Homo sapiens: one gene and its partners. The protein of the gene in region 1 purifies or fractionates together with the protein of each later gene. This does not show direct contact. Each region holds a gene or a part of one and is shown in the gene's direction. Other genes may lie near its edges. The genes, in order: NEMF, FOSL2, CC2D1B, VPS50 and PPM1E.

What was found.
Region 2: the proteins of NEMF (region 1) and FOSL2 purify together in Homo sapiens (co-immunoprecipitation; one large-scale study listed by IntAct). This does not show direct contact.
Region 3: the proteins of NEMF (region 1) and CC2D1B fractionate together in Homo sapiens (co-fractionation; one large-scale study listed by BioGRID). This does not show direct contact.
Region 4: the proteins of NEMF (region 1) and VPS50 fractionate together in Homo sapiens (co-fractionation; one large-scale study listed by BioGRID). This does not show direct contact.
Region 5: the proteins of NEMF (region 1) and PPM1E fractionate together in Homo sapiens (co-fractionation; one large-scale study listed by BioGRID). This does not show direct contact.

The regions. Positions count from the first base shown.
Region 1 is NC_000014.9:49,795,580-49,802,003, reverse strand, and holds part of NEMF (ribosome quality control complex subunit NEMF), read left to right. Parts: intron 1-1,307; coding exon 1,308-1,584; intron 1,585-2,325; coding exon 2,326-2,368; intron 2,369-2,479; coding exon 2,480-2,529; intron 2,530-5,675; exon of another isoform or gene 5,676-5,771; intron 5,772-6,059; coding exon 6,060-6,213; intron 6,214-6,424. UniProt on the Homo sapiens protein: Key component of the ribosome quality control complex (RQC), a ribosome-associated complex that mediates the extraction of incompletely synthesized nascent chains from stalled ribosomes as well as their ubiquitin-mediated proteasomal degradation.
Region 2 is NC_000002.12:28,404,752-28,411,175, forward strand, and holds part of FOSL2 (fos-related antigen 2), read left to right. Parts: intron 1-4,007; coding exon 4,008-4,115; intron 4,116-5,721; coding exon of another isoform or gene 5,722-5,824; intron 5,825-6,424.
Region 3 is NC_000001.11:52,363,406-52,367,391, reverse strand, and holds the start of CC2D1B (coiled-coil and C2 domain-containing protein 1B), read left to right. Parts: upstream 1-1,186; 5' UTR 1,187-1,323; intron 1,324-2,757; 5' UTR 2,758-2,771; coding exon 2,772-2,840; intron 2,841-3,986. UniProt on the Homo sapiens protein: Transcription factor that binds specifically to the DRE (dual repressor element) and represses HTR1A gene transcription in neuronal cells.
Region 4 is NC_000007.14:93,356,602-93,363,025, forward strand, and holds the end of VPS50 (syndetin), read left to right. Parts: intron 1-1,715; coding exon 1,716-1,835; 3' UTR 1,836-4,522; downstream 4,523-6,424.
Region 5 is NC_000017.11:58,970,789-58,977,212, forward strand, and holds part of PPM1E (protein phosphatase 1E), read left to right. Parts: intron 1-1,343; coding exon 1,344-1,487; intron 1,488-2,043; coding exon 2,044-2,137; intron 2,138-6,424. UniProt on the Homo sapiens protein: Protein phosphatase that inactivates multifunctional CaM kinases such as CAMK4 and CAMK2. Dephosphorylates and inactivates PAK. May play a role in the inhibition of actin fiber stress breakdown and in morphological changes driven by TNK2/CDC42.

The DNA.
Region 1 (6,424 bases):
CTCCAGCCTGGGCCACAGAATGAGACCCTGTCTCAAAAAAAAAAAAAAAGTATTTAATTGGATCCATACTAACATACTTTAATGTATGTTTATATAGTGAGACTTCAGTATTTAATGGGTAATGCATAAATGTGTTTAACAAAGGTAGACTCGGGTAAATGTGCATTAGCATTTAGTTTTGGGTTTAGGAATTACAAGTGATAGATGAATTTATAAAGTGCAGTTTCTCATATGAAAATTTGGCTTGATTTAATAAAATATTTGTTTCAAGTAGAGAGCAATTATAGTTGCTGGAATAAATTCATCTGCCTACCTGAGGAAACTAGGGAAAATATTCCCACTAAACTACTTTTGTAGTTATTCTCTCTGCTAAGGTCATTCCTCTTTACAGGTAATATTGCATTGTTTCATTTACTATTACTGTTGTGCTGCAAGATTTTGTTGATTGAGGCTCACCATTTCCCTGGGACTGTATAAAGTGCCTTATTTACATTCTTTTCTTTTTTTTTTTCCCCCCGAGAGGGAGTCTCAGTCTGTCGCCAGGCTGGAGTGCAGTGGCACAATCTCGGCTCACTGCAACCTCTGCCGCCCAGGTTCTAGCAATTCTTCTGCCTCAGCCTCCCGAGTAGCTAGGATTACAGGCGCCTGCCACCACGCCTGGCTAATTTTTGTATTTTTAGTAGAGACGGGGTTTCACCATCTTGGCCAGGCTGGTCTTGTACTCCTGACCTTGTGATCCACCCACCTCGGCCTCCCAGAGTGCTAGGATTACAGGCATGAGCCACTGCACCTGGCCTATTTACATTATTTTCTATTCTCACAACCATCCTTGTCAGATGAGTGGTGGCATCTCATTTTACAGGTGAGGCAGTAGACCCTGTTACTACTATTAGACAGTGTTCCTTTTGCAGAAGAATGAGCACCTGCTATGTGGGCGTTATATAATACGTATTTAAGTTTTTATGTGCAAATTATAATAAAAGCAGCAAAAGTTATGCAACTAATTTTGCTGTCTTGGTTTTTGGAAATACCCAACTAAGGCAGAGTTGTGGTTTTCATTGTTGAAAGGGTAGCAATGTCCAAGAAATTTATTGTGGTAAAGGATCTTGGAGATCATTTAGTTCAACCTATTCATGATACAGGTTATTCTTTTGTCTAAGAGTACCCTTTGGGAATGATCAGACACTTTTCTGTTGATTTTTTGGAGAAATATGGGAGAAACAGTGGAATATTTTTATGACATTTTTAGGAAATCACCTGGCTTGGTTGGTAGTCCCACACTGACTTTCCTTATGATAATTCTACAGATGGAGGTGACACGAGCAGTGATGAGGATAAAGAAGAACATGAAACTCCTGTGGAAGTAGAACTCATGACTCAGGTTGACCAAGAGGATATCACTCTTCAGAGTGGCAGAGATGAACTAAATGAGGAGCTCATTCAGGAAGAAAGCTCTGAAGACGAAGGAGAATATGAAGAGGTTAGAAAAGATCAGGATTCTGTTGGTGAAATGAAGGATGAAGGGGAAGAGACATTAAATTATCCTGATACTACCATTGACTTGTCTCACCTTCAACCCCAAAGGTAATTAAAAAATAAAATTTTACATATTATTGTGTAAGCTGAGAATGATGATGAGGTAATCCTTACAAAGATAATACCAAGATTGACATCAGTACTTTTACACTCCATTGTCTTAATACTTTTTCAACATTTGATTGGGTCTCTCTGCAAAGAAATTCCCAGGACCAGGGTAGAAAAATACAGTGCATATAGAGTGGCCAAACTAGATCCAAATAGAAACAAGTAAATGGTTATAAATGCTAAAAACATAACAAAGGCAATTCCATCAAAGAAATGTGTTTTAGTCTATATAATGTTTTGCAGATCATCAGGTGAATAGTCCATAGTTATAAATGCATAATTAACTTAGGGGTAATTCAGAACAGTCTAGGAGTCAGACAGACCAGTATTGGGTCTTAGGGTGCGTCCTTGGGAAAATTACTTTGTGCTTAAGCTTCAGTTTCCTTCTTGGTGAAAACAGAATGGTATCCCTTTCATAGGGATTTGGTGAAGGTTTCATGCGTGTATACCATCTGGCAGTGCCTGACACACAGTAAGTTTTCAATACACGTCACCTATTTAAAAATGTATATGGAAGTGTGGAGAGAGGAGCAATTTGGTTGTATGTTTTTCTCACTTCACCAAATTTGAAAATTTGTTGGATTGCCAGTACTTAAGAGTATGATATGGGAATGTTTTGGGACTTTGTAAATGCATGTCTTTTACAGGCTAGTAGAGACTCCCTTGTGTTTATTTTCATAGGTCCATCCAGAAATTGGCTTCAAAAGAGGAATCTTCTAATTCTGTAAGCTATTTTCAGTTTTATGAAGAACATCCGATTCTCAGTGAATAATTTTCTACTTTTCAAAAAAGTTAATAGTGATATTTGCATTTGCCTGTTTTTTTGTTTTAATAGAGTGACAGTAAATCACAGAGCCGGAGACATTTGTCAGCCAAGGAAAGAAGGTAAACACATCTGTGTTAATTAACTAAAAAGCATGTTTTTCTTTTTTTTTTAATTGATAGCTCAGCTACCACAGATTACTTAGCTGTTTAAAGACTTCCTTCATTAAATTTACCAAGATTTAGCACAAATGTTTAGTTTTTAATATTAAGCTCTAATACATTTTTCTGTTTAAGGGCCCTAATCTATAACTATAATCAATGAAATAGACCTAGTAGAGTAAGTCCTCACTTAACATTTTCCTTTTTTTTTTTTTTTTTTTTTTTTTTGAAACAGGGTCTCGCTTTGTTGCCCAGGCTAGAGTGCTATGGCGCAGTCATGGCTCACTGCAGCCTCAAACTCCCAGGCTCAGGCAGTCTCCTGCTTCAGCCTCCTGAGTAGCTGGGACTACAGGCGTGTGCCACTACAAAAATTTTTATAGTTTTTGTAGAGACAGGGTTTCATCATGTTGCCCAGGCTGGTCTTAAACCCCTGGGCTCAAGTGATCCTCCCACCTTGGCTGCCCAAAGTGCTGGGATTACAGACATGAGCCATTGTGCCCGGCCTTCACTTAACATTTTCTTTTTTTTTGAGATGGAGTCTCGCTCTGTCGCCCAGGCTGGAGTGCAGTGGCATGATCTCGGCTCACTGCAAGCCCCACCTCCCGGGTTCACGCCGTTCTCCTGCCTCAGCCTCCCGAGTAGCTGGGACTAGAGGCGCCCACCACCATGCCCGGCTAATTTTTTGTATTTTTAGTAGAGACGGGGTTTCACCGTGTTAGCCAGGATAGTCTCGATCTTCTGACCTCGTGATCACCCGCTTTGGCCTCCGAAAGTGCTGGGATTATAGGCATAAGCCACCGCGCCTGGCCCACTTAACATTTTCAATAGGTTCTTGGAAACTTGGACTTAAGGGAAACAGTGTGTAATGAAACCAGTTTTGCCATGGGCTAATTGATATAAACAAGAGTTAAGTTCCTCTGGCATATTTTTGGTCACAAAACCATCACCAAGCTTCTAAATAAAGACTGAAAACTCTTCTAATATTAAACGTTAAAATAAATGTAAACTGTATGTATATTTAAGAAAGATGAATGAAAGCGAGCAAGATAATTATTTACCCAATTTTTGGTAAATCAATGAGTGATGGCAGTTGTAGTGGTAGTGGGTTAAATCAAGGATTATTTGCAAAGTGAAAACTATAGAGTACCTCCTACTACCATGAGGTTCAAAAACAAAAATGTGGCACATTCATTAAACACTTTCATACTACATTGTTGATTGTTATACATTTGTATGACTATAGTTTATGAATTTTTGACAATCATTTTTATTAAGTCATTCATTCATTCATTCATTCGTTTTTCAACCGCTTATTCCAGTTAAGGGTCATTGGTGGCTAGAGCCTATCCTGGCAGGTCAGGGCAAAAGGCCAGAACCAACCTAGAACAGGATGTCATTCTGTTGCAGGGCACACATACCTGCACTCATTCATGCTGGGATAATTTACACACACCAGTTAACCTGACATGCGCATTTTGGGATGTGAGAGAAAACCTGAGTACCTGGTGAAAACCCACAAAGACATGGGGAGAACATGTAAACTCTGCACAGATGGTAGCCGTGGCCAGGAATCAATTTTGTTCTCATCAAAGTTATAACACAATGATGTTGAATGAAATGATGTTATTTGAGGACTAGCTCTAATAAGACCTTTTATTACATAAACATGTACAATAATGATTTCAGTGTATTACATAGACTAGTTCTAGGGTGATATTGTCAGGAATAAATATGAATACCTGAAATTAGGAAAGTTTTATGTAAGGCAGAATAGTTGATTTTTTGTTTTTTGTTTTTTTTGAGACGGAGTCTCGCTCTGTGGCCCAGGCTGGAGCGCAGTGGCTGCGATCTCGGCTCACTGCAAGCTCTGCCTCCCAGATTCATGCTATTCTCCTGCCTTAGCCTCCCGAGTAGCTGGGACTACAGGCACCCACCACCACGCCCGGCTAATTTTGTTTTTGTATTTTTAGTAGAGATGGGGTTTCACCGTGTTAGGCAGGATTGTCTCGATCTTCTGACCTCGCGATCCACCCGCCTTGGCCTCCCAAAGTGCTGGATTACAGGTGTGAGCCACCGCGCCTGGCCGATTTTTTTTTTTTTTTTAATAGCAGGTCTCAGGAAGCAAGTAGAAGCAAGGGAAGGGCGGAAGGGAAGGGAACAACTACTGTAGGGTGGGAAAGACTAAGCAAACTAAAGCACTCCAGGAAGAGGCCCTAGAACAGAATGGACAATAAAGCCTTTTCATTTGAGAAACATAATCATTGAACAATTACAGAGAATTCTGAGCACATAGCCCTGTGCTAGATACTTACTGAGTATACAAAGAGGTGAAGTATAAAGCTCATGCCTTCAAGAAGCTTTTGAGTCCTGGATTCAGGAAGTAGTCATAAATATGTAAATAGTGTCTGAAAGTGATAAAGTAGTTCAAGAGTAAGAGATTGCTGTGAGTTCAGATGTTTGGGGAAATAACATCAGAAGTATACCTTGAAAGATATGTTAGCAGTTAAGTAAATGAAGGAGGGAGACTCCAAGGAGAATTAGCATTAACAAAGGGGAGTGCTTCTTTGGGGTAATATGCATAGTGCTTTGGGGAAATGATAAATAGACTGAGTTGGAAGGAAGAGAAAGTTTGTGTATTAAATGGTAGATAATATGATTGGAGAAGTAAATTTGGACTAAAAGTGGAGTACTTAAAAGCTAAGGATTTTGGACTATACCCTTTAAAGTGATACGAAGAGAATGTGACATAGGCAAATGATTAAGGAAGATTAATATAGAAGTTAATGGCCGGATGTGGTGGCTCACGCCTATAATCCCAGCACTTTGGGAGGCCAAGGCGAATAGATCACCTGAGGTCAGAAGTTTGAGACCAGCCTGACCAACATGGTGAAACCCCATATCTACTAAAAATACAAAGTTAACTGGGTGTGGTGGCACAAACTCCGTTTTAAAAAAAAAAAATTCAGAGTATGTAGACTCTGGAGGAAGTCTGGGTGGGATGTAATGAGGACCTGAACTAAGACGTTGGCATTGGGAACAGAAAGAAGAATACCACAGTAATAAAATTTACCCTTCCTTCTTAACCTGTGTATTTTTAATCCATTTAGTCAACCAACCGGTCAACAGATGTTTTATTGAATGCCTAAGACCTGCCAATGCTATGTTGGTACAAAGACTACAAATCCCAGTGCCTGGCCATCAAGGTGATCAGGGGCAAAATGTGCCTAGTGAGTAAGGATGAGTCAGGGGTGACAATATGTTGAGCTTGGATGATGGAAAGAAAGATAAATCCATGAGAGATGAAAAACTTGCATCTTTTTCCCACATGATGATTTTAAGCATCTTTGTATTTTCTAACTTGGTGATTATCAAGTGAAGCAGAAGCCATGACCATTTATATACTGTATATGTGCCTTCCCCATGGAACTTTTTTAGGGCACTAAGAATTTCAAATTCTAAGAATGAAATGTTTTCATGTCTTTTTTATTCAGGGAAATGAAAAAGAAAAAACTTCCAAGTGACTCAGGAGATTTAGAAGCGTTAGAGGGAAAGGATAAAGAAAAAGAAAGTACTGTACACATTGAAACTCATCAGAACACAAGCAAAAATGTTGCGGCTGTGCAGCCAATGAAACGAGGACAAAAGGTAAACTTCAGGATGATCTATATGGTTCACAGTTAATTTGTGAGGTTCCTTTTTAATTTTTTAAAGTTGAAGTGAAATAGAAAATGTAGGCCAAAAAATAATCCTGTGTGATTTCCTTTGACTAAAAATTAGTTGAGTAGATACAGCATTTAGGGAACACAGAGATCACTATTAGAAGTTCTTTAGACTTTCAAGATCATCTGCACAGAAG
Region 2 (6,424 bases), on another chromosome or scaffold:
ATCCCTTAGCCGTCTCCCAGGGTCTAGTGCAGGCCAGGCACCCAGCAGACCTACGGGGTCAAGCTCTGGGTCGGTACTGCCCACGACTTCCCATTCCTCCTCAGTGTTCTAGGCCTCCAACTCGGAGCAGGAGCCTATTTCAAGGGCCTGGAATGCATGTTCCAGAGGTGCAGTAACTCTGGGGCCTTAGGAGTCTGTTCAGTGGCATGGACAGGAGGATGAGGCAGGGGAGGCCAGACATCAGCCCTTTTCTCTTCAAGGGGCTCAGCTTTGAGAAAGAATTAACCTGGCTGGGGAGGGAAGCCAGAAAATGGGGAAGGGGGGGCTCTGCTATTTAGGCAGCACCTACCTAGTACTCAAGAGGCTCATTGCCTGGATCAGCAGTAAGCCAGGGCAGTGCCAAGTTCCCTGGTCTTGGAAAGGGAAATCAGAATCATGCATAATTCCAGAAAGAATGGGATAAAGCCTCAGAGAGCCCCACCTCTCCCCCATGTCAGATGATACAAGCAAGGGCCAGACATACCTGTGTGTGGCCACTCGGCCAGTGAGTGGGGAAGTCTGGGCTAGATCCCAGTTCCCTGGACCCCCTATGCAGTATTCTTTCTCCAGGGCTATGCCACCCTGAGCCCAGGGAAGGGAAAAATACTTTAGCAGTGGAATCCCTTTTTCAAATGAATTGTTATCCTGGGAAACTATTTCAGTGACAGCCTTGGAACCCTTCCTCATTTCAACCACTGTCCATCTTCACTCTGTGATCCCCAGGGCCACAATGTTCCAATATACGGACCTTTCAAACATGGTTCCCAGTGGATCAGGGTAGATCCAGACCCCAGGATACTTGGAATTACAGGGATCACCACACCAAGAAACTGGAAGCTTTCTCAGGAGCTCTGCTCCTGCGAGGACAAAGCTGGGTCTTGTATCCACTACTTGTTGGTTTGTTCTGTTAATGGCAGAACCACGGTGCAGAGCCACTTGGGGAGGTGTGTCTGCTAGACACTATAATGGATTCACAGCTGCATGTTGGGCCTCTGCTGCTGGAGCAAGTGGCCAGTATCCTCCTCACAGTTGCTTTCTATAATTGCAGTTGTAAATATTGCAGTAGCCATGCTTGTAAGGACTTTTATAAATAGGCTTCCTTCACGGAATCCAAGGTGCAAAGCCTTATACTCACTGATGAGCTGGACTCTTCTGGGATATAAGTGATCCTGAGTGAGAGCCAGGCTTGCCAGGTACTCTTTGGGGCTAGCAGGACCACAAAGCCTGAGGATGTGCTGAATGCTCTCCATTCCCTTTTTTTTTTTTTTTTTTTTTTTCTTTTTGAGATGGAGTCCTGCTCTATCACTCAGGCTAGAATGCAGTGGCACGATCTCGGCTCACTACAACCTCCTCCACCTCCGCGGTTCAAGCAATTCTCCTGCCTCAGCCTCCTGAGTAGCTGGGATTACAGGCATGCACCACCATGCCTGGCTAATTTTTTTTGTACTTTTAGTAGAGATGGAATTTTGCCATGTTGGCTAGGCTGGTCTCGAACTCCTGACCTCAGGTGATCCACCCGCCTCAGCTTCTCAAAGTGTTGGGATTACAGGCGTGAGCCACCGCGCCCGGCCACGCTCTCCATTCTCTTCTGGGCCTACCTCACACCAAATTTAGAAATTTGTATCCAGAGGGACTTTGGAGACCATCTTTTCTCATTTTCCCTTTATACCCATTTTACAGACAAGGAAACGGAGACCCAGAAAGGTGAAGGGCCCTGTTAGAGTCTCACAGTGAATTAGTAGCAGAGCCAGCACTGGAACCCACTTCTCCTGACCTTTGGCCCTGTGGTTTTCCCACCACACCACCTAGGCGTGCCTCATACAATCTGTCTGGAGAGTTTCCTTCCTTTTTTGAGAGGGAGGGAGAGAACAAGGAGCATTGTATCCCACATCAGTTGGGAATTCACACATCTCCCAGCAGCTTTAAGGAAGCCTGGGCAGTGGCAGCCTAGAACTTTGGCTGTTCAGGTTGCCAGCCCTCAGGGCTTTGCTCTGAAGCTTACTCCGGCCGTCCCCAGCCTCCCCCAGCCTCCCTGCTAGGGAGGAGCCTGCCTCCGGAGCCGGCCTGGTGCCTCATAGGCCTCCTCTTGGGAGGTTCCCTCTGTGCCCTGTGGCGGCGACTCTGAGGAGGTGGGGAGGGGAGGGTGTGTGTGGCTTGTGGGTGGGTACATGGTGCTGCTGACACACTCAAGCTGGAACCATGTTGATCTCACCGCCCCTGAACACTTCCTATGTTGACAGCTCCCACAAGTTGCCCCACACCTCACCAGTCAGGGGAGAGACTTCTAGGTCAGTCAGGAGGCCAAAAGTTGTCCAGAAGCAGCCAAGGGGGAAGGAGGGCTTGAACTGGGTCAAGGCCAGCCTCCTTCTTTTCTGCCTCTCATTAGCGAGGGATCTAGGGGGCTTCCTGGGCCTTAAGGGGAGCCCTGGTGGCCCTTTCAGTGGTGAGCCCTAAACCCAGGCCTGCAGCAGGGCCATAAGGCTTTCTTGGCAATTCTGCTGGGCTCAAGACAAGACAGGTTTAGGAGCAGGAAGTATTCAGGGCCTTGGCCAAATGGCCTCATGACCTCAGCCGGGCTGTGGACTTCCCTCTGTGTGACAGGCATGGGATTGTCCTCTCTGGTGCTGTGATGATTGTCCTCTCTTTGCTGTTCAAAACATCACAGCAACAGACCTCCAGGGCTAAAGGGAGCATTGTGGGACTCTGACTTGGACCCAACCAGGACAGTGGCTCTTTCCTTCATGGGGTGACCTGAAGTCCAGGCAGTATCCCTCCTTGGGGTAGCTTCTCCCTGCTCCTCCAAAAGTAGCTTTGATTTTGCCCCCAGGTGTCCCGTGAGAGCTGACCCAGGTCTTATTCCCCTTGAGATCTTCTAAGCTCCTAGTGTAGCACCGGGCAGTTAGTAGGTGTGCAGTCAACGTCTGATAACTGAATGGGTGGGCTTTCCCTTTGTGTTGCTTTCTGCTTTGGCCCACAGCCGTCTCCTTGTGTCACCTCTGCCTGAGAGAGGCATTGGGGTCACAGCTCTGCAGGGCTCTGTAGAACCAGAGCATTTGCCCTGCTCAGTAGAGCAGAGTTCATGCTTTCCGGTATGAGTGACAGATTCCTAACTGTCTCACTGGAAGAAGCTAGATCCTAAGCTCTTTGCAGGGGAATCTTCCTTTGTTTGGTTCGCAGATAAATCCCAAGCCCGTAGAACTTCATCTTGCACATGGAACCAGGTGCTCACTTGTTGAGTGGACAGATATGGTGGGCAGCAGGATTTTACCTGCTGGGGGCTCCTCTTCCTTTTGCATGTCCTGTCCAACTTAGCACTGTACCAGGCATGTGGGGGAGTACCTGGGGTTGAACCGTGAGCAGCTGGCACCCTGGGATTGGCAGAGGAAATCGGGAGTGGAGTGGCACTCTTGGCCCTCCCATCAGCAACATAACATTCCCCCCTGGGTGGTTCTTAACCTGTGTGGGGACTCCAGGCCCAGCTACTTAACAAAATGGGGATAATGAGGCTTGCAGAGCAGGCAGAGTGATGGGAGGAGAAATTAGCCAGGGTTTGGAAGAAGCTGCTTAAGTGGGTGGGGCCACGCCTGGCTGGCAGGAGGGGACTCTTGGAGAAGCATCCCCAGCTCCTTCTCTCTGGCCTGAGCACTGAATCAGGGCTGATGTGATAGGTGCTGCCATCATGCCTGGGCCAGTGAATCTCTGACCCATTGCTGTCCTGTTTAAACATGGACTTTAAACTTGGACATCACCTTCCGGGGCAGATTCAGCTCAAAAGAGCCCTCCCAGGCAGCCAGACATCAGGGATCCACATGTTCTGGGGCCTCTGAGTCCAGCCATGCTCCTCTTGCCCTTCCTTCTCCTTTCTCCATTTCCAGAAGGGCTTCTTGCCTTACTTAAAATACAGTTTTTAAAAAATACTGTGAACCATTGTCTCTGTTCTAACCATGATCCTTGGCTTTGGCCTCTAGCTGTCTCCTGAAGAGGAGGAGAAGCGTCGCATCCGGCGGGAGAGGAACAAGCTGGCTGCAGCCAAGTGCCGGAACCGACGCCGGGAGCTGACAGAGAAGCTGCAGGCGGTGAGGAACTCTGCGTAGGGTGGGAGCACCTCTGGGTGGGCTGGAGTGAGAGCCCCGGGGGTCCTGATCCTCTCTCCCACAGCTGTCTCCTTACCCACAAATGCCCTACAGATGAGTCAGTGGAGATAGAGCTTTCCTTCCTTTGGACACATGGGTCAGCATTGTGTTGATTGAAAAGAGAGAGAGAGAGGGAGGTGGCGTTTAGCACCAGCCAGGGCCCAGAGGGAAGAAATGAACAACCTTCTGTGGGGGTGCTAGCCACGGTTTTTACGCAGCACCTGAGTGTTCTCTGCTCACAGAACTGTGGGGGCTCCTGGGTGAGGGATGATGGAGGGTGGGAGCCAGGGCAGGTCCAGACCTGCCCCATCCAGGGCTGCTTCCCGAGGTTCCAGCCACTCCCATGCCTGCCGCCATCAGGAGTGGCCCAGCCTGGCCTAAGCACTCTGGGTTGGGCCAGGGAGAAGTCTTGATGGAGATAGGTCACGTGGCAGCAGGGTTGTATTTTCTTGGGGTTTTCTCATTTCCTTTATGGGCAGGCGGGTTCCCCACCTCTATCATGAACTCAGAGCTGTGGCCATGGTACCGCGTGCTGCTCTTGTGAGTCACTCTCCCGTGCCGCCTAATTGCCCAGACCTGGGGACCCGCAGCCCTGCCCTTCCCTCTGTTAAGCTTGACCTGACCAACGTCACGTAACTCCCTTCAGAGCCTGGCCCTGCAGGAAGGGCCGTGTGCTGTGTGGAGGAAGCCCCGAGCCAGGGTTGACTCTCCCCAGTGGAATGCTTTCAGAGTGAGGAGATGAGAGAGACTCTGTCAGTGGTCCTCACAGTGACTGCCCAGGATGGGGCTTTGGAAAACATCCCCTCACACTTTTTTTGTTATTATAATTTTTTTGAGATGGAGTTTCGCTCTTGTCGCCCAGGCTGGAGTGCAGTGGGACGATCTCAGCTCACTGCAACCTCTGCCTCTTGGGTTCAAGCCATTCTCCTGCCTCAGCCTCCCAACTAGCGGGGATTACAGGTGCCTGCCACCATGCCCGGCTAATTTTTGTATTTTTAATAGAGACAGGGTTTCACCATGTTGGCTAGGCTGGTCTCGAACTCCTGACCTCGGGTGATCTGCCTGCCTTGGCCTCTCAGAGTGCTGGGATTACAGGCGTGAGCCACCACGCCTGGCCCATCCCCTCACTTGAGTTAATGTTTCCAGGTACCATCCACCCACTTAGGCTTGTCTTTCTCTGTCCTGCAGCCCTCACTCTGGGGTGTTGAATGAATTGAATTGCGTGAATTCTGTGATGCCTGTAGTAATGGCCCTCGGAGGTGTTAGAGCCGGGGAGGATGAGTGGGAATTCTTCATTCCCAGGTGAGGCAGATCCACAATCCACTTCCTCAGCGGGCCCTCCCACCACTAACCTTTCTGTGATTGGCACTTCAAGGAGCTGTGCCCCATGTGGCGCTCCTCACCACCCGCCCCGGAATAGCCCTGCCCCCTGAGGCTCCTCTACTTTCCTTCCCTCCTCCCAGAGGCCTCACACCCTACTCCCCTGCCTCCCCCACCTCCCCCGCCCTCTGACCCAGCCACCCAGGCCCCTGAGCCACATCCTCCACAGGAAGCCTCTCAGAAGCTCATGACGTTCGTCAGACCCTTGAGACAGACGGAAACTGTTTTTCACTCCGGAATATGCTGTCCTCTGCTGAACGAAGCCCTTGCCCGTATGTCCTCACTGATGAACAGGAATCCATGTTAGGGAAAACGTGGGGAGGAGGCTGGTGACACACACCTCTTCCCCTCCCACAGCGGCCCCTCCACGTGCACTTGCTCGCTTCTGCTTCTCTGGCTGGGGATGAAAGAAGGGGGCTGAGGTCCTTGCGGGGTGACCCTGGCATCCTCACAGGCCCTCTCGGGCTGTCACGTTACTTCTGTGTCAAGCGTGGTGGCTGAACCAAATGTTCTCTGAGGGTTCTGGGAGTCCTGAAATATGTGCTTAAGAAATTGGAGCAAAAGGCCAGGCGCCGTGGCTCATGCCTGTAATCCCAGCACTTTGGGAGGCTGAGGCGGGTGGATCACCTGAGGTCAGAAGTTCAAGACCAGCCTGGTCGATGTGGTGAAACCCCATCTCTATGAAAAATACAAAATTAGCCGGGTGTGGTGGCAGGTGCCTGTAGTCTCAGCTACTCGGGAGGCTGAGACTGGAGAATAGCTTGAACCCGGGAGGCAGAGGCTGCAGTGAGCCAAGGTCATGCCACTGCACTCCAGCCTGGGTAAGACAGAGTGAGACTCTGTCTCAAAAAAAAAAAAAAGAAAGAAATTGG
Region 3 (3,986 bases), on another chromosome or scaffold:
CAAGACACACAGACGTTGTACTCTGTACAATTCTTGCATGCTTCCCATATCAAATTTTCCTTTTAAGCCGTTCTCTTTCCCCCCAAAATCGAAGTGGTTACTTTAGATGGGAATCTGGCCACTTCCCCATTACTCCGCTCTCGGTTTTTTTGTTTGTTTTAGTTTGAGACAGGGTCTCACCTTGTCACCCGGGTTGGAGTGCAGTTGACAGCTCATTGCAGCTTGGACCTCCGGGGCCACAGCGATTCTCCTGCCTCGGCCTCTCAGTAGGTAGGACTACAGGCACGCACCACCACACCCGGCTAATATTTGTAATTTTTTGTAGAGACAGGGTTTCGCCATGTTGCCCAGGCTGGTCTCGGACTCCTGAGCTCAATCTCTTGTTAACTGGACTCTGCAAGCCGCAGGGAGAAACGTGCTTTCCTTAGAAAACTAGACTAGAGCATATTTACTGATGCTAAAGAGGTTGGTTTTGTATTTCCCTGGGCAAATAATTCTCTCTGAGCCTCCGTTTCTTCTAGAGATGATGTCCATCTTGCAGGATTGAGAACTGGTATAAGCTCCATTATGAAAAGTGACTGACACAAGCTTGGCAGAAAACGGGTATACTCCGTTTCTCTCCTTAATATCCTCCATGCCATTTGATTGCACAGCAGGGTAGGCGAGTGAGAACTTAGTGTTAGACTCTGTAAAGTATTTAAGATGTGCAGCGAGCTCTGCCTGTCTGAAGTTTTCAACGGACCGGAAAAGGATACTTTCAGGTGCTGAATTATTAAGAAACATATGGTGGGCCCCATTTCCATTTCCCCAGGCTTAAAGGACATGGACAAGCAGGTGAGCCCCGCCCCTGTCTCTCTTCCAGGGCGGAGCTTGGGTAGGCCCCGCCCTCTTGCTCGGTGGGGCGGGGCGAGGGCTGGAGGCGGGGTAGGTCCAGCGAGCGAGCGAGCGCCCAGCGCCTCGGGCTGAGTGAGGGAGGAGGTTCGGTGGAGAGGCTGCAAGTGGGCGAGGGCTGGGCGCAGCGACCTCATTGGAGCCGGCCGGTGGACGCCCCGGCGGAACCGCCCAGAGTTCCTGTCCTGCGCTACCTACCCGAACGCGCCTGCGCGCTGCGAACCCCGCCCCGGTGTCACCTGTTGGAGCCCCCCGCCCGCGTAGCCGTGCACATGCGCACTGCCGGCCGCCGGCCAGTGGGGTCACGTGTTGCGCGCGAGCCACCTCCCCTGCTGGCGCTTCCTGTCGCTACCGCTGCGGCCCAGGGCCCGCGGGAGCCCAGGGCGGTGCCGGGTGAGACAAGGCCGGGGTTTGGCTCGGATTCACCGCGAGGTATGCCGCGTCCCCGCCCCTCGGCGTGGGGAGTTCTGGGGACCGCGGGGGTAGATGGAGGCGGCGCGGGCGGGGCAGGGCGGCGCGTCCCGCAGCGCGGGAGTGGGGGTCCCGTGTCGCCTCCCCCTACGGACTCCGTTGCCCACCTTCCGTGAGGCCTGGCTGTGTCATCGGGGCCGCAGCCTTGGAGTGTCTGGCCTCGCTTTCACCTGAGCCGGAGTCACTCCCGAAATCTGACACTCAGAGTCCCCCGGAGCGCCCGCCAGCTCCTCCGCCCGCTCCCCGCCGCCTCCACGCCCGTCAGCTGGTCTCCCCGCCAGCGCTGTGGCGAGATGCGCCGGCTTCCTGCCTTTTCCCCCTACCTTCTGTGCACCTCCCCTTTGGTGCCAGAATGGGGTTTCTGAAACACCGATACGATCCCGCCACTTCTTTCCCAGCGCCCTCAGAATAATGCCCAAACGCTTTTCGGCTTAGAGGTTTTCATATTCTGCCGCTTGCTCACATTTCCACCTCGGCTTGTGCATTCAGGCCTCACCGCTTATGCCCCAGTCATACCAGGCCTCAGGTTCCATTGTACAGGCCAAGCTGCTCCCCACTTCAGAGCCGTCAAGTGTTCCCTCGTCTTGGAATCCTATTTCCCTCTTTCCCCCAACTTCTTTGCGTGACTCAGCTCAGGCGTCACCGCCTCGAAGGAGGAGCCTTTTCTCCCAGGGCTGAAGAAGGGGTCACCTCAGGGCACCCATGGCCCCTGGGGCAACCCCGTGTAGTCCACCTCCACCCTGTAAATGGTCATTGAAGGCTGAGACCGTCTTAGGTTCATTTCTGCGCTCCCAGTGCCCAGCGCAAGGTCTGACACAGGAGGTCCTGTGAATAACTGTGAGATCTTTATGGGAATCAGAATGCTGAGCCAGCTTTCTCCAGAGCTCAGCTGTGAGATGGAACTTTGATGACATGTCCTTGGATGATGAAAATGTTCTGTGTGTGTGCTGTCTGGTCATAGCCCCTCACCACATATGGCTGTTAAGCACTTGGAATGTGTCTGTTGTGGCTGATGGACTGGATTTTTAGCTTTATTTCATTTTAATTCATTGAAATTTAAAATTAAATAGCCAGCTGTGGCTTCCATAAGCACAGCTTTAGAGCCTTTCTGAATTCTACCCAGCCTTCCACCCACCCTGAACCTAGAGTACTTCCCTGAATGTGCTTTTTAAATTTGAGTCCGTTCAGAACATTCCTCAGTAAACCCATTAACAGGTGATCCCCATCCCTCCCATGGCCTGTGCTGCTTCAGTGCTTTAATTAAAGGTAACCCATACTTTGGTGTTCAGCATTGCCTTCTTTGGGAGTTTACTATCCACACCTTACCACGGGTAGCACTGTTGGGGGCGTGGCTTATGGGCTACTCCAGCCTGAATCTCTGTAACTCTTCCATAGGTATCTAGGCTGCCATGATGCCAGGGCCAAGACCTCGGAAGGGCCCTCAGGCCAGAGGCCAAGGGGTGGCCGCTGCCAAGCAGGTATGGAACTTAGCCTTCTAGGCTACTGGGTCGGTTTGGGGATGGGGGTCCCTAGACAACTTAGGCAAACTGGATCACATGTAGTTCCCCCATTAGTTCAGAGACTTGGAGCAGTGCCTCCTGGAGGTGGCAGAGCCCTTAGACACCCTCCTACTAGTCTCTTCCACATACAAGTGGGGAGAGGGTTCAGGAATCACCAAAGTTTAGGATGTTCTGATGGGACCTCAGTGCTCTCAAAGGTTCCTTAGATAGGGTCACAACTTTGCTTGTTAGCCAGGGATGCCAGGGCATGAGGGCTGTAGTCAGTGGGAGGACTTCACTGCCTAGGGACAGATGGCTGTGCCCCAAGTGGAAGAACAGGGGGGTCTCCTCTCCAATTTTCTTCCTTTATTTCTTCTGGGCCTACATCTTGAGACTTCTTAGTCCATTTTTACTGTCTTTAAAAAGGCAGGTAAGAAAGGAGGTGGGGTAAAGGGCATAGACTCAAGTCGCAAAGAGCTTGTTTTAAATTCTGATTGTCTCACAAGACTGTCTCAGTTTCATCTGAACATTGGGATAAAAACAGAATGTAAGCTGGGTGCCGTGGATCACGCCTGTAATCCCAGCACTTTGGGAGGCCGAGGTGGGTGGATCACCTGAGGTCAGGAGTTTGAGACCAGCCTGGCCAACATAGTGAAACCCCATCTCTACTAAAAATACAAAAATTAGCTGGGCGTGGTGGCATGTGCCTGTATTCCCAGCTTCTTGGGAGGCTGAGGCAGGAGAATCGCTTAGACCCGGGAGGCAGAGGTTGCAGTGAGCCAAGATAGTGCCACTGCACTCTAGCCTGGGCGACAGAGCCAGACTCTGTCTCAGAAAAAAAAAAAAAAAAGGATGTACCTCTACCTAGAGTAGTCATATTCATGGAAACAGAAGAATGGTGCTTACCAGAGGCTGGAAGGAGGGGAGGAAGGGGGGTTAATGTTTAATGGGTAGAAAGTTTGTTTCACAACATGAAAACAGTTCTGTGGATGGATGATGGCGATGGTAGCAGGATATTGTGAATGTCCTTATGCCATTGAACTCACCCTTAACAGTGGTTAAGATGGTAAATTTCATGTTGTATGTGTTTTACCAGAGTTTAAAAAAATAGGACCTTCTTTTTTT
Region 4 (6,424 bases), on another chromosome or scaffold:
TTAATATAGATTTGATTATTTTTCTTTTGTATGACTATATAGATAACGAAAAATACTATTGTTACGTAGGATGCCGAATTTTTGACACAGTTCAACTCAGTGAGCTTGGTATGGGAAGCTTTTCTGTATATGGCATGTGTTAAAATTATCACCAAATCCTCATTGCTTTGATAACTCTAGGATTTACATTTTCTTAACCTATGAATGTCATGGGTAAAAGCTAAGTCAAGTTTTATTTCATTTGGGTAAGAAAATAATTATTTGTATATACCTGCTCAGACTCATCCTTTCTGGCCTTAACACTGTAAAGAGATAAAATGCATTAGCCTAGAACATTCACATTGGCGTGAATCTTGTGTGAATGTCCCCACTCTTACTCAGTTTCGGATCTTTAGAAGCAAAGTAGGAATGTATGTGTTATTTTTAATGAGTTCGACCAGTAAAGCCAGATTGAGAAAAACTTCACCACGTTTAGCCCCACTGACATTTGATAACCAAAATGTTAAACCTAGATGCAGATAGACTGCTTAATGTTGCTAGAATCCATTTAGTAAAGTAAGCTGTAAACACTTCTGGGTTGGTACTGAGGAAAGGGTTTTGGGAAAGAATACAAAGTAGCCAAGGAGGAAAGGCACAGCTCTATTCGATGCAAGAATGATGCCCGTTTTTTGAATTTCCTCTTTTAATATAGTAGACTGATTTTTTTTTAACTTAGTACTTTGAAAGAGCTTTAACTGATTGATATTTGTAATTCAGTGACATTTCCCCAGCAGCAGCAGGGACTCTTTTCTGTCTTTGAAGGAAACTTCCCACAATGATGAGTCCAGCGATCACTGACGATGGATCCTCACTGAATGCTGAGTGGTTAAATGAGATTACTTACCAGGCGGGGACAGGTGCTCTCAGAGATCAGATACACAAGCTGAGCAGTTTGCCAAGTTTTTAAAATCAATTCTTTCTCCTATTTTGAAATTGTACTATATTTAGTGGTTACCTTCAATAAAGACACATTTTCTTTTCTTATTAGATAATAGTACACAGCTGTCTTTCCCTATCTGAACTCTTGCTATTCAACCTCCAGTACCAAGTCAATCTGCAGAAATTTCTGATGAATCCCTGTTTATTCTCATCCTAGCAATTCAGTATCTAAAATTCAGGAACCAGATGGATTTGGATTGCGAAAGATACTCGTAGTCTTAATTTTATTTGCAGCTCCCTGACTTTGTGATCCTTGTTACCTTATTCATTTGTTGTATCTTAGAAGAGTTGTTCTTCTGTTGTTGGAGATTTTTTTTTTAACTAAAGTGTTTACAAAATGTAGAGGGCCAGAAAAATACTTCATCAGTAGCATTTAAAAAATTTGAAATGTCAGTGTATTTTGATGACTCAATAACAAAGACTATTACAGAAACAAGTGTAAAGTGTGTGATCATCAAAGCAGTAAGAAGCATACGCATGTCAGATTGCTTTGCCATATTAAAACAGATTCTAGTGCTTACTGTTTCAAATGTGTACTATAGTATTCTTATTCTCTCCTATTACAGCTCAGTAAACAATTTGCCTTCCATGTCCCAACTGTAATTTCCACTGTTTTTCACTGGTTTATAATGCTCAGTAACTATCCACTGCACCTGAATATCCGCCTGTTCTTTTGTTGCACTGATCAGATACATTCCTTTTAGGGTACTAAATTTGGATCTTTCTTCTTTGAGCAGGAATATTCAACGAAGCAGCTGACCAATCTGGTGAATGTTTGCCTGGGATCCCATATCAATAAGAAAGCAAGACAAAAACTTCTAGCAGCTATAGATGATATAGACAGACCTAAAAGATAATGAACACAGCTCTCTTTCCTCAATGGCATTGATCCTCACTCAACATATATGACCTGAAAGCCAGTTTTTTTATGCACTTCTGACAACTATCTGCTAAGAAAACTTTGTGCATGTTTTTTTGACTGGAAAGTGGAAAATATTGAAATGTGTGTGGTGTTCTCATGACTTTTATATGCTGTGGTCTCTTCAACTTTTGGTCTCATTTGTTGTAATCTGAAATGATGTTGCCGCCTTGTCATAACAATGGTTATGTGACTACAGTTATACATTTTACAGAAGAATGTACCATAAGTATATAATTAGAAGAACAGTGGCTTAATATATGTATGGGAAGTTTATGGAAAATGAAGTTGGCACTTTTCTACCCTCTGAGCTTGGTTCTTAATAAGCATAATGTGAGGGTGAATATGTAGTATCTCCTAATTATGAGCACTGCATGAGAATTAAAAAACACATGTAAGTAAAATAGTTGAAAAATCAGTATGTTCTCTGTTTTTAAAATGTCAAAGTTTATGTCAGGGTTAATTTAGTTATAACAAAGTGATCATAATGGTGAAATTTAATAAATATACTCTAGTATGATCAGCCTATGTGAGACTACATTTTGATTTTTTGTGTGGCATGCAGATGTCATGAACTATAGTGCAGCTTTTAGTGTGTTCTAATTTTAATTGTTTTATATCCTGAAACCAATGGTGAAAAGTAATTTCATTGAGGGTACCTTTTCAATGCCTGAGTAGCATACAGAATCATGATTATGAGACTTTCTTTTATCTTTCTTTATAAAAATATGTGGTTTTTTTGTTGAAAGTTTTGGTCTCTTTAAATTCAGATTTTGTCTTAGGACAGTAAAACCCAGGTTGACTGACTCAGGAAACAGTTGTCTGCTAGTCACTCATAAATGTACGGTCATATGTTCACTCTTCTTAAATATCCACCTTTTATAACACAAATGTAAAATAGTATCAGTCTAGCCAATGATGAACTCTGGAATCCACTTAGTCTTCAGTAAGTATGTGCTGTTCCTCTAAACTTTGCCCTGAAGCCAGGGATCTTCTCCTAATGTATGTGACATAAAAATCCATTTTCCATGTACTCTTGCCAACTGTCTGATAAGGAATTTTGTGTGTGTTCTTTCTGACTGGAGAGTGGAGGACATCTAAGCTTGTGTGGCATTGGTCCAATGATTGCCATGCATGACCTGTAACATCAACAGCTCACAGAATCCTAAGGAATCATGTGAGAAACAGGCCTTGGGTCTTATGAGTCTTCTGGGACCTAAGGTGATAAAATGGATGGCACAGAATGGCATGTGATCAAGCATGGAGGTGATAAGGAAACAATTGCTACTCTGTGTCCATCAGTCCCTGCGATGTCTGTAAATGCACAGTGTAATGTGAAGCACTTTCAGAATATGTTTGTGTGTGTCTGTATGCTGAGTGTTTTCTTTTCATCCTCTCATGTCGGAGTTCATTTACTGTCAATTTAAAACTTTCCTCTTGTAAAAAGGTATGAGTTTGGTGCCATTATGATTTGGTTGTGGCTAGATTATATACTTGTGAAGTAGATTCTGCCTGTAGCCATTATTTATATGCAGCCACTTGAAGAAAACAAACATGAGATAAGCTTGGTCCTTGAGTTTAAATGGCATATTTAGCTGGGCACATAAAGAGCTAATCAATCTTTTAAAATTTGCAGTTGATGAAGAGCTGCTTATTTTTCTCTTCTACATGGATTTTATAGTTGGTTTCCTTTAATTTCTACTTTAGTTGGCCCTAGATAATATGAACAGGAATCACCTGCCTGGTAGAGCCCAGTGTTTTCCAAGGTAATAGGAATTGATACAAAAGAATTACTTATCTTGTTAGAGACTCGACCATGCAATCTGACAGACCTTTTAACCTACCCTTACTTTGCTTTCTCCATCTTCAAAATGAAATGGTGGATCTTTTTAATGCTTTTTGAAAAAGGTTTTTTTTTTTTTTTTTTTTCATTAAAAGGTAGCTTAATAAGTGCTAGCTAGCATCAAAACAGTAACAGGAGGTTTGAGTCATGAAGTTACCTAATCACAAGAGAGTTACCAGACATTTCTCAAATACTTTATACAGTAATATTGAGTTATAACCATGTAACATTTTATGAAACTAATTTTCAGATAAATACAATTGAAAAGCTGAGAATGTAAATGGAATTATACGTGTTCCAAAAACTATCATTACCAAAAATTTATTATTTTTGAGTCTAAACTTTCCTTAACTTTGACATTTTCCATGAAAGTTTCCTGTAGAATTTACCATGGGAGCATGGTAAATTAGCATTCCCTGAGAAAGAATGATCATTTCTACAAATACATTGTCTTGCATTTAAAAATGCTAGGGGGGCACATAGCAATTCAAATGAACTAGTTTGCTTTGGTTTATAAAACCAACAGAGATTTTGTAAGTTCACTTTAACTAATAAACTCATTTACACAACTTATTAAATGAATTTCTCTTGAAACCAGGGCCATATGGTATTTTATCATATCTTTAAATAAAATTTCGAAATTTCTATTTAGCTGAGTGCTAAAGTGAAACTTTGTTAGATTAAATAGCTTTTTCTTAACTCACCAAAAAGTAGTAAAAGGCTTGTAATTCAATTCACCTTGTAAGCATAGTTGTCTTTTGTAATAAAAAACTAGATCTGAAGATGAATTGATGAATACAAGTTGTGCTCAAAGCACATAGAAGTACAGGGTGGGGGGGATTTCCATATATATACATATATATATATTATATATATATTTCTTTTTGGAATAATTTTGATTCGGATTAGTGGTTAACAAAATGATATTTAGCTTCTGACAATGATTAATGATGAGAATTATTAATAGTCTGGTATAATCTTTGTAAATGTTAAGACTGGTGCAGCTTTCTACAGATTTTTTCTTATTGTGGAAAATATTTGCTCAATTCCTATCATCCACAGCTTTGTAAAGGCTATGAAAAAGTTTAAGCAGCACAGCTCTCACAAGGACAAAACTGTTAGATTTATACAAGAGAACTGTTAGCTGTTTCAAAATGAATGGAGAAAAATAATTCATTTGCTTTGATGTGCTTTTCTTGATTGACATATCCTTTTTGAATATTGCTAAGTATACTTAGATCATTTTTTCAATATGAAAACAAAACCACAGCTAAATATTCTCGTTCACTTAGAAGGATCCCTCTGGAATTTTAGTACTTTATTGATATGATTAATATAGAACTCTTTTTGGTGTTTTTGATAACCATTTTTATAAGTTAATTTAGACATCACTTTTTGATCCCAAGACTGAGAAGACCTGGCCCTGGTGAGGATTTCCAAATTTGCCCTGTAGGTATTTTTTCACACTGAGCTAAGCCTTTCCATCCAGGAAAGGGATTTTCTTCATCAGTAGTTTTTGTTTTACTCTGTTCCTTCCCAGTCCTAGGTACCAAAAGGATTTCTGCTTTAAAGAAAAGGCATTTCCACAATGTGGGCATTTTAATCCAGCTACACCAAATAGCAAGCATGCTAATCTTTGCCCAAAAAGAAAGGACTTTGTAGTCAGGGTGTCCATTTTGACACCACTCAGTACTAGAGCCTACGCTAAAGTGTAGTGACACCATCAGGTAACCACTGGGAGACCATTTTTGCTGGCTACCTGCTATCTGCCTTACCTTACTTCTGTTATCCCTGCTTTCCTAATCACAATCCCACCTTTAAGCACCCAAGCAAGATGCTATCCTTTCCATGAAACTTATCCTTCCCAAGGAGAGATGTTGTGGAGAAAAATCAATAGGGAGTGGTGGTGGTCACAATGGTAGTATAACTTAAACAAGGATGGTGGCAGAAGGCCTCCCTTGAGAGGAAGGGAAGAGGCTTGCCATGCAGATGTCTGAGTGAGTGTAGCAGGCTGAGAGAATGTCAAGTGCAAAGGCCCCAGGGTGGAGGCTGCTGTCAGAGAACAGCAAGGAGGGCAGTGTGGATGGCATAGTAAGCAGAAGAAAGTAAAAGCAGAGAGGATGTGGCAGGAGGGGACACATACGGGGAAGGACTTTGGATTTCACCTTCAGATGGAAGCATTTGAGGGGCTGTGAACCAAGTGATGACCTGATTTGTGACTTAGGGTTTACCAAAACCACTCTGTGTATTTGAGAAAGAGCTAGAGAGGGACAAAAAGCAAAGCAAGGAAACAAGCTAGGAAACTAATTTGGTAAACCATGCGAGGCTAGGATTGCAGTAGCATTGCGGGATATGGTGAGGGGTGGTCAGACGCTGGACATATGTTGAAGGTAGAAACAAAATGATTGGTATTTGAGGAAAGAGTGTGCTTAAAGACTTTCTGGAGGAAGTAGAAGTCTTTGGGAAGACTGGGTTTGTGAACAAGATCAAGAAAACAGTTTTGGACAGGGAAGTTTGAGATACTTGGAGATAAATTATTGGATGTGTAGGAGAGGGTAGCGGCATGCAAGTCTGGAGTTCAGAGAAGAGGTCAGAGCTATAGATGTCAATGTGGGAGTCATCAGAATATAACGTAAAGCCAAGATTTCTTTAGGAGGCAGAAAACTTACAGGCATAGGAAAGTA
Region 5 (6,424 bases), on another chromosome or scaffold:
CTGCATTCTGCTTGGCTCTGCCTCTCTTGAAGCTGTGGGCTTTTATCATCTGAGTCGAGGACAAGGGCCGGCCCCTGAGAGGTGACCCGTAATCATCAATGTGAAACAAAGAGATTCACTCTGTCTTCTTCATCCTCTATTCTATTCTTTTTTTCCTCTGTCTTCTCAAAATTATGTGTTGTTGTTGTTGTTGTTGTTTTCTGACCATGTTTACCTCATTTGTTTTGTCAGTGACCCTGGTGTCTCTCAGTTCTGCCAATAGTTCTGAATAATTTAGGTTTGTCTCAGCGCCCCTTTTCTCCTTCTTATGCTTCCATGTGCTGCTAACTGCTGGGAAGAAAACAGCTATTCCTGTTATGAAGCAGCCCTGCCTCCTGTTCTCTCCAGGGCATATGCACTGAAGTGTGTTTATCATGTGTTCTAGGGGGCTGAGTTTTTGAACATTCTGTGTGGGAAGACATTTTATTGGTGGGTGAGGATTTATAACAAACTTTCCCTATATAGGGAAAACGAGAAGTTGTTTTTCTCATTGGATACAAGAGACCTTTTACCACCCCTGACGCATTGGTTCTAATTTAGGCCAGGTCCTTAGTAACAGAAAGTCATGCTCATTTGGTGGTGACTCATGTCAAATGGGGATGTCATTTTCGTATAGTAGGACCAAGAGCTTTAAGTACAGTCGTAGCTACTGCAGTGAAATTCCAGGCTGTTAGTTCTTTATGCAATGTTCCAAAAGCAAAGACCCCTAAAAATACTGTAGGAAGGATATTTTTTTAAAGGTATAAGCATCTTAGTACTCCAGGGAACGTAAGCTGTCTCTTGGCCCCTTAGCTTAATTTCCAGAGATTAGAGCATCTGTTGTGTACCAATCAGATGTTTTATATATCATTTTATACAGCTAGGACTCTCCCACTGAACAAATACGATGTCAGTAATGAAATGGAGAGCAGAATATAGAAATTTTTACTCTGAGGATTGGTATAGAGGATTTAGTGCTTGACTGGGAGGAAAAAGAATTTCAATTCTGTCTTATATACTAATAGTTACCTGCCCTTGGGCAAGTCACATAACCTGCCATAGTTTTCTTATCTATATTTAAAGTGGAATTAATAATCATCCTCGCCCTGCATATCACAGATCAGGTGGACTTATGTGTGTATATACACATAAATACATACATGCATATACAAATGCATTGAGACAATGAATTATTATATATGTGTGAAATTCCATTATTAATAGTATAGCTCCCAGCTGAAAAGCTTAATTATAAATTGCTTCTCAATAAGAATGTAGTATCTATTTCTTTTCACTGAGTCTAGTTTTATTTAAACTGTTTTCAGAGCTTAAGATGTGGGACCACAGGAGTGGTGACTTTCATCAGAGGCAACATGCTACATGTGGCCTGGGTGGGTGATTCCCAGGTTATGCTTGTGAGAAAGGGCCAAGCTGTTGAACTAATGAAGCCACACAAACCAGACAGAGAGGTAAGTATGGTCTGTTTTAATAGAGCCCATGCTCTAGTTATTAGTTTAGATTTTCTAGTTATTGATTAGGATTCACTTACTTTTTTTTTTTTTGAGATGGAGTTTCACTCTGTTGCCCAGGCTGGAGTGCAATGGTGTGATCTTGGCTCACTGCAACCTCCGCCTCCTGGGTTCAAGCGATTCTCCTGCCTCAGCCTCCCGAGTAGCTGGGATTACAGGCATGTGCCACCACGCCCAGCTAATTTTTGTATTTTTAGTAGAGACGGGGTTTCACCATGTTGGCCAGGCTGGTCTTGAACTCCTGACTTCAGGTGATCTGCCTGCTTCGGCCTCCCAAAGTACTGGGATTATAGGCGTGAGCCACCGCGCCCGGCCAGGATTCACTTAATTATTACAATTATTGCTATCACATCAGCAACTGTGCCCACCCTCCAATGGAGAAACAAAGAGAACCTTTTCATGAGCTGATGAGTATTATATCTGTTGTTTACTGTTAAAGTAAATGAATAAATCCTGAATCCAGTTATTTGCTTCTTTTTATTGCATTGCTGTTTAGGATGAAAAGCAGAGAATTGAGGCCCTTGGAGGTTGCGTAGTCTGGTTTGGTGCCTGGAGGGTGAATGGAAGTCTGTCGGTTTCCAGAGCTATTGGTAGGAAAAACAAATTTTTGTTTCTCCAAACTGTCCTCTTCTAGCTCATTCTCCTGTATCAACTCTGATACAGGGAACCTGAGATGATAATTTATGTTACCAGAATGCTTATTATTCTTTAAAATAATAATTGGATAACGTCTCTTTTAATTGTTTGATTTAGTTAAACCTGTACATTTATATACTTAAATTCCATTATTGAAAGAGAACTGCCAGGCTCAGTGGCTCATGCCTGTAATCCCAACACTTTGGGAGGCCGAGGCGGGTGTATCACGAGGTCAGGAGTTCAAGACCAGCCTGGCCAACATAGTGAAACCCCATCTCTATTAAAAATACAAAAAATTAGCCAGGCGTGGTGGCGGGCGCCTGTAATCCCAGCTACTTGGGAGGCTGAGGCAGGAATATTGCTTGAACCTGGGAAGCAGAGGTTGCAGCTAGTGGAGATCGCGCCATTGCACGCCAGCCTGGGTGACAGTGTGAGACTGTCTCAAAAAAAAAAAAAAAGAGAACCATATCAAGAAATGCAGAATTTTCTAGTTTCTATACATTTAAAATTTTATGGAAGCCTTTAATCAGTACCCAAATCTGCTTCAAACCACAGTGGTTGGGACAGGCACAGTGGCTCACGCCTGTAATCCCAGCACTTTGGGAGGCTGAAGAGGGTTTGAGCCCAGGAGTTAAAGACCAGCCTGGGCAACATAGTAAGACTTCATCTCTTAAAAAAACAAAAAACAAAAAAAACAAAGGCCGGGCGCAGTGGGTCACGCCTGTATTCCCAGCACTTTGGGAGGCTGAGGTGGGCAGATCATGAGGTCAGGAGATGGAGACCATCCTGGCTAACACGATGAATCCCCGTCTCTACTAAAAATATAAAAAATTAGCTGGGTGTTGTGGCACACGTCTGTAGTCCCAGCTACTTGGGAGGTTGAGGCAGGAGAATCACTTGAATCTGGGAGGCGGAGGTTGCAGTGAGTCGAGATCGCGCCACTGCGCTCCAGGCTGGGCGACAGAGCGAGACTCCATCTCAAAAAAAAAAAAAAAAAAAAAAAAAAAAATTGCTGGGCGTAGTGGCTTGTGCCTGTAGTCCTAGTACACAGGAGGCTGAGGCGGAAGGATTGCTTGAGTCCAGGAGTTTGAGGCTGCAGTGAGCCAAGATTGTGCCACTGCACTCCAGCCTGGGCCAAGGGAGTGAGATCCTGTCTTAAAACAAAAACAAAAAATCATAGTGTTTCTCATTTCATTGCATTTTGGGTCAAATCAGTATTTTTCAGAGAATGGAAGCCTTTCTCCGTATTTTATCCACATTCATTTTGTTTATGCCTCTAAATTATTTCCATGAATTTTAAAATGACATAAATAACAGAATAAGTTGATAGGAAAAGCATTGTGCTTTTTATATGAAAACTACTTTCTGTATGTGGAATACAGTCACCTGTCAGATAACCCTGGAGTTTCAAAGAACCCTATATCCCTGGGACTTAAATTTTTCAAAAGAAGGGAAAGTCAATGAAACTCGGTCTAAAACGTAGAGATTAAACAGCTAAGTTGGCTGGACAAAATACAAGGGTATAAGTTCAAAGAATTAAGCTATTTCTGTCTTTGTCTCACTTTGGGCCCTGGGTTTATTATTTTAGGCTTCATGGCTTAGCTTCACTTCCTGTTTTTTTAAAAAAGAATAAATCAATATGTATATCTATATGGGTGATATGTACATTACATGTATACTGCAGTTTTTAATCTCTGCTTCCCTAAAGAAATGAAGTAATTAGACATGGTTGGAATTCACATCTAGTCTCAAAATTTAGTTAAAAATTACCAAAAATTCCAGAACATGAAGAAAATCTGAAAGGATTTAGCTTTCACCACTGATTTGAGTTCCTCCCACTCTTTGGGAAGGTGCTAGCAAGCTGTGAAGTGGCCCAAATATGAGTAGAAAGCTGAAAGAGAAATAGCTAAAAGAGTCTACAAATACCTCCTGAAAAATTGAGATTTGGCTTGACCTTAGACTGGAGGGAATTATTAGGAACTCTAGAATAAGGCCAAAAAGGGGAAATGTCTCATTTCTAAAATATACCCTTATATGGAATTATTATTATTATTATTGGTGGGGAAAAGTCTTTATCATGCACATTGTAGGTTTAGCAGGACCCACTACCCATCAAATGCTACCCTTGACTGAAAATCACCGAACCAGAGGACTATACTATCTGTGGAACCAATTTACGTTAATGATCATTATATGAGTGCTTGAGTGGCCAGTGAATTAGGTTTACAACTCAAACCAAACACCTATTTCTCCTGATCTGACCTTTGTCAGAGGATTGAGGATCATCTTTAATACTTGTTACAGAACTAACTTAATAGAGAATACCAGCTTCTTCTTCTAAAAGGGAAAACCAAAGCAGGGAAGAATGTCCCTTAATAAGTGACAATCTCAGAGAAAAGGCTGGGTATGGCAGCCAGCACTGTGGAAGGCCAAGGAGGGAGGAATGCCTGAGCCCAGGATTTTGAGACCAACCTGGGCAACATAGTGATACCTCATCTCTATTTTAATAATAAAAAATAAACAATCTAAGAGTGGATAAGGGAGACTTCATACATAGAGTGACTTTTGAGTTGAATGTGGAGGATAATGTGCTGGGAAGGAAATCCCTACACAGGTAGAGGGAAATATAAATACACAGGGGTTTGAAAAGGCATGGCATGTTTTAGGAAAAGCAACAAGTCCAGGAGGTTAGAGCAGAGATGGGAGTGGTAGATTAGCAGTGTTGGTGCCAGATTGCAAAGGGCCTTATGTGCGAGGCTAAGTAGTCTGGACTTTACCAGGTGAATACGCAGAGGGGCCACAGGGTCAGCTTTGTATTTATAAAGATATTTGTATGGAAGCTGGGCTAGAGTAGAAAGAGCCTGGCTGGGAGACATTCATACAGTTTGTTACAGAGATGAGGAGAGCTAAAAAGGAATATGGAGGAGGGTATCAACTGATGAGATGGATTGGTTGGTGGGAAAACCTACTAATCAACAAACAATCTGGCACTGGAAATAGGCAGTAACATAAAGGAGCAAGTGTAGATTTAGTTTCTTGGGCAGTTTGATGGTGAAGGGGAGAAAGGAAATAGTGTGGTGGCTTAAGGCAAAAGCTGATTCAGGAAAGGGTTCCTTTTTATTGTTTCTATTTTTAGGACGAGGAGATTTTAGATTTGAGCATGTTTGTAGGACAAGGAAGAGAGCAAGTAGAGGAGAAATTGAAGACGAGAGAGTAGAGAAGCCAGAGCAGCACAGGCTCACTGTTAGGATGGGAAAAGGACACTGCTTACCCTGAGAAAATGGTAGCTGATATGGGAGAATCTCTACAGATTAAACAGTGCATGTGTGGCAAGGGTGGGAGGGGAATTGAGAAAATTCAAGCCTGATCAACTTGTCTTTGAAGTAGGAAATTAGGCCATTTACCAAAATCCAGTAGCTTAAGTGGATGAGGGAGTTGAAGAATTTGAGAAAGAATTGGAAACCACATGGAATAAAATGGGGGGCTGCAAAAGGACAAGAAAAAGGACTCCTGGGCAGAGTTCAGCTCTACTCAGGAAAGAAATGATACTTATAAAAATGAAAAGGTTTTCAACAGTTTCTCCCCATGAGCCCTTCAGATTTATGATCCAAAGTTGACAGAGGCATGATATGTTTCCTAACATATGGAGAGAAGAGGTTGAAGACAAAAGGATGTTGCCATTTCTACGATGAAATGGATATTCATGCCCTCCTACCAAATTTGGGGGCGAAATGTCATGAATTTGACACCCAACAGTAGAGCAGGTGAAAAGCCAGAACTTTGGCAGCATTTTCTCTGTACAAATCTTTGTATGTTCTGTTCCAAACTAACAGTTGCAGCAGTCTTTTAATTGAAGCACTAAAACAAGATTTTTGGGAACAGTGTGACTCAGATCACATTTATTTTTAGAGGCGGAATTCAAAAAATAATAATGATGATAATCATATAGTCAGGTAGAATAGGGGATGGGAACTTTAGTAAATTGGTGAAGGACACTGAATCCCATATTGGATTTTATTTATTATTTATTTTTAAATATCTTTTAAATTTTTGCATTTTCTGCTTAAATAGATTGAGTTTTAATGAGCTCTAACAGGCTATGGAGGCACCTTAGCATATAAGTGAAGTTGATTAAATCAAAAGCATGCTTGGGAAAGATGGTTTTGACTCCTGTAAGAAATAATGAATGAGGGCTGGGCGCGGTGGCTCACACCTAGAATCCCAGCACTTTGAGAAGCCCA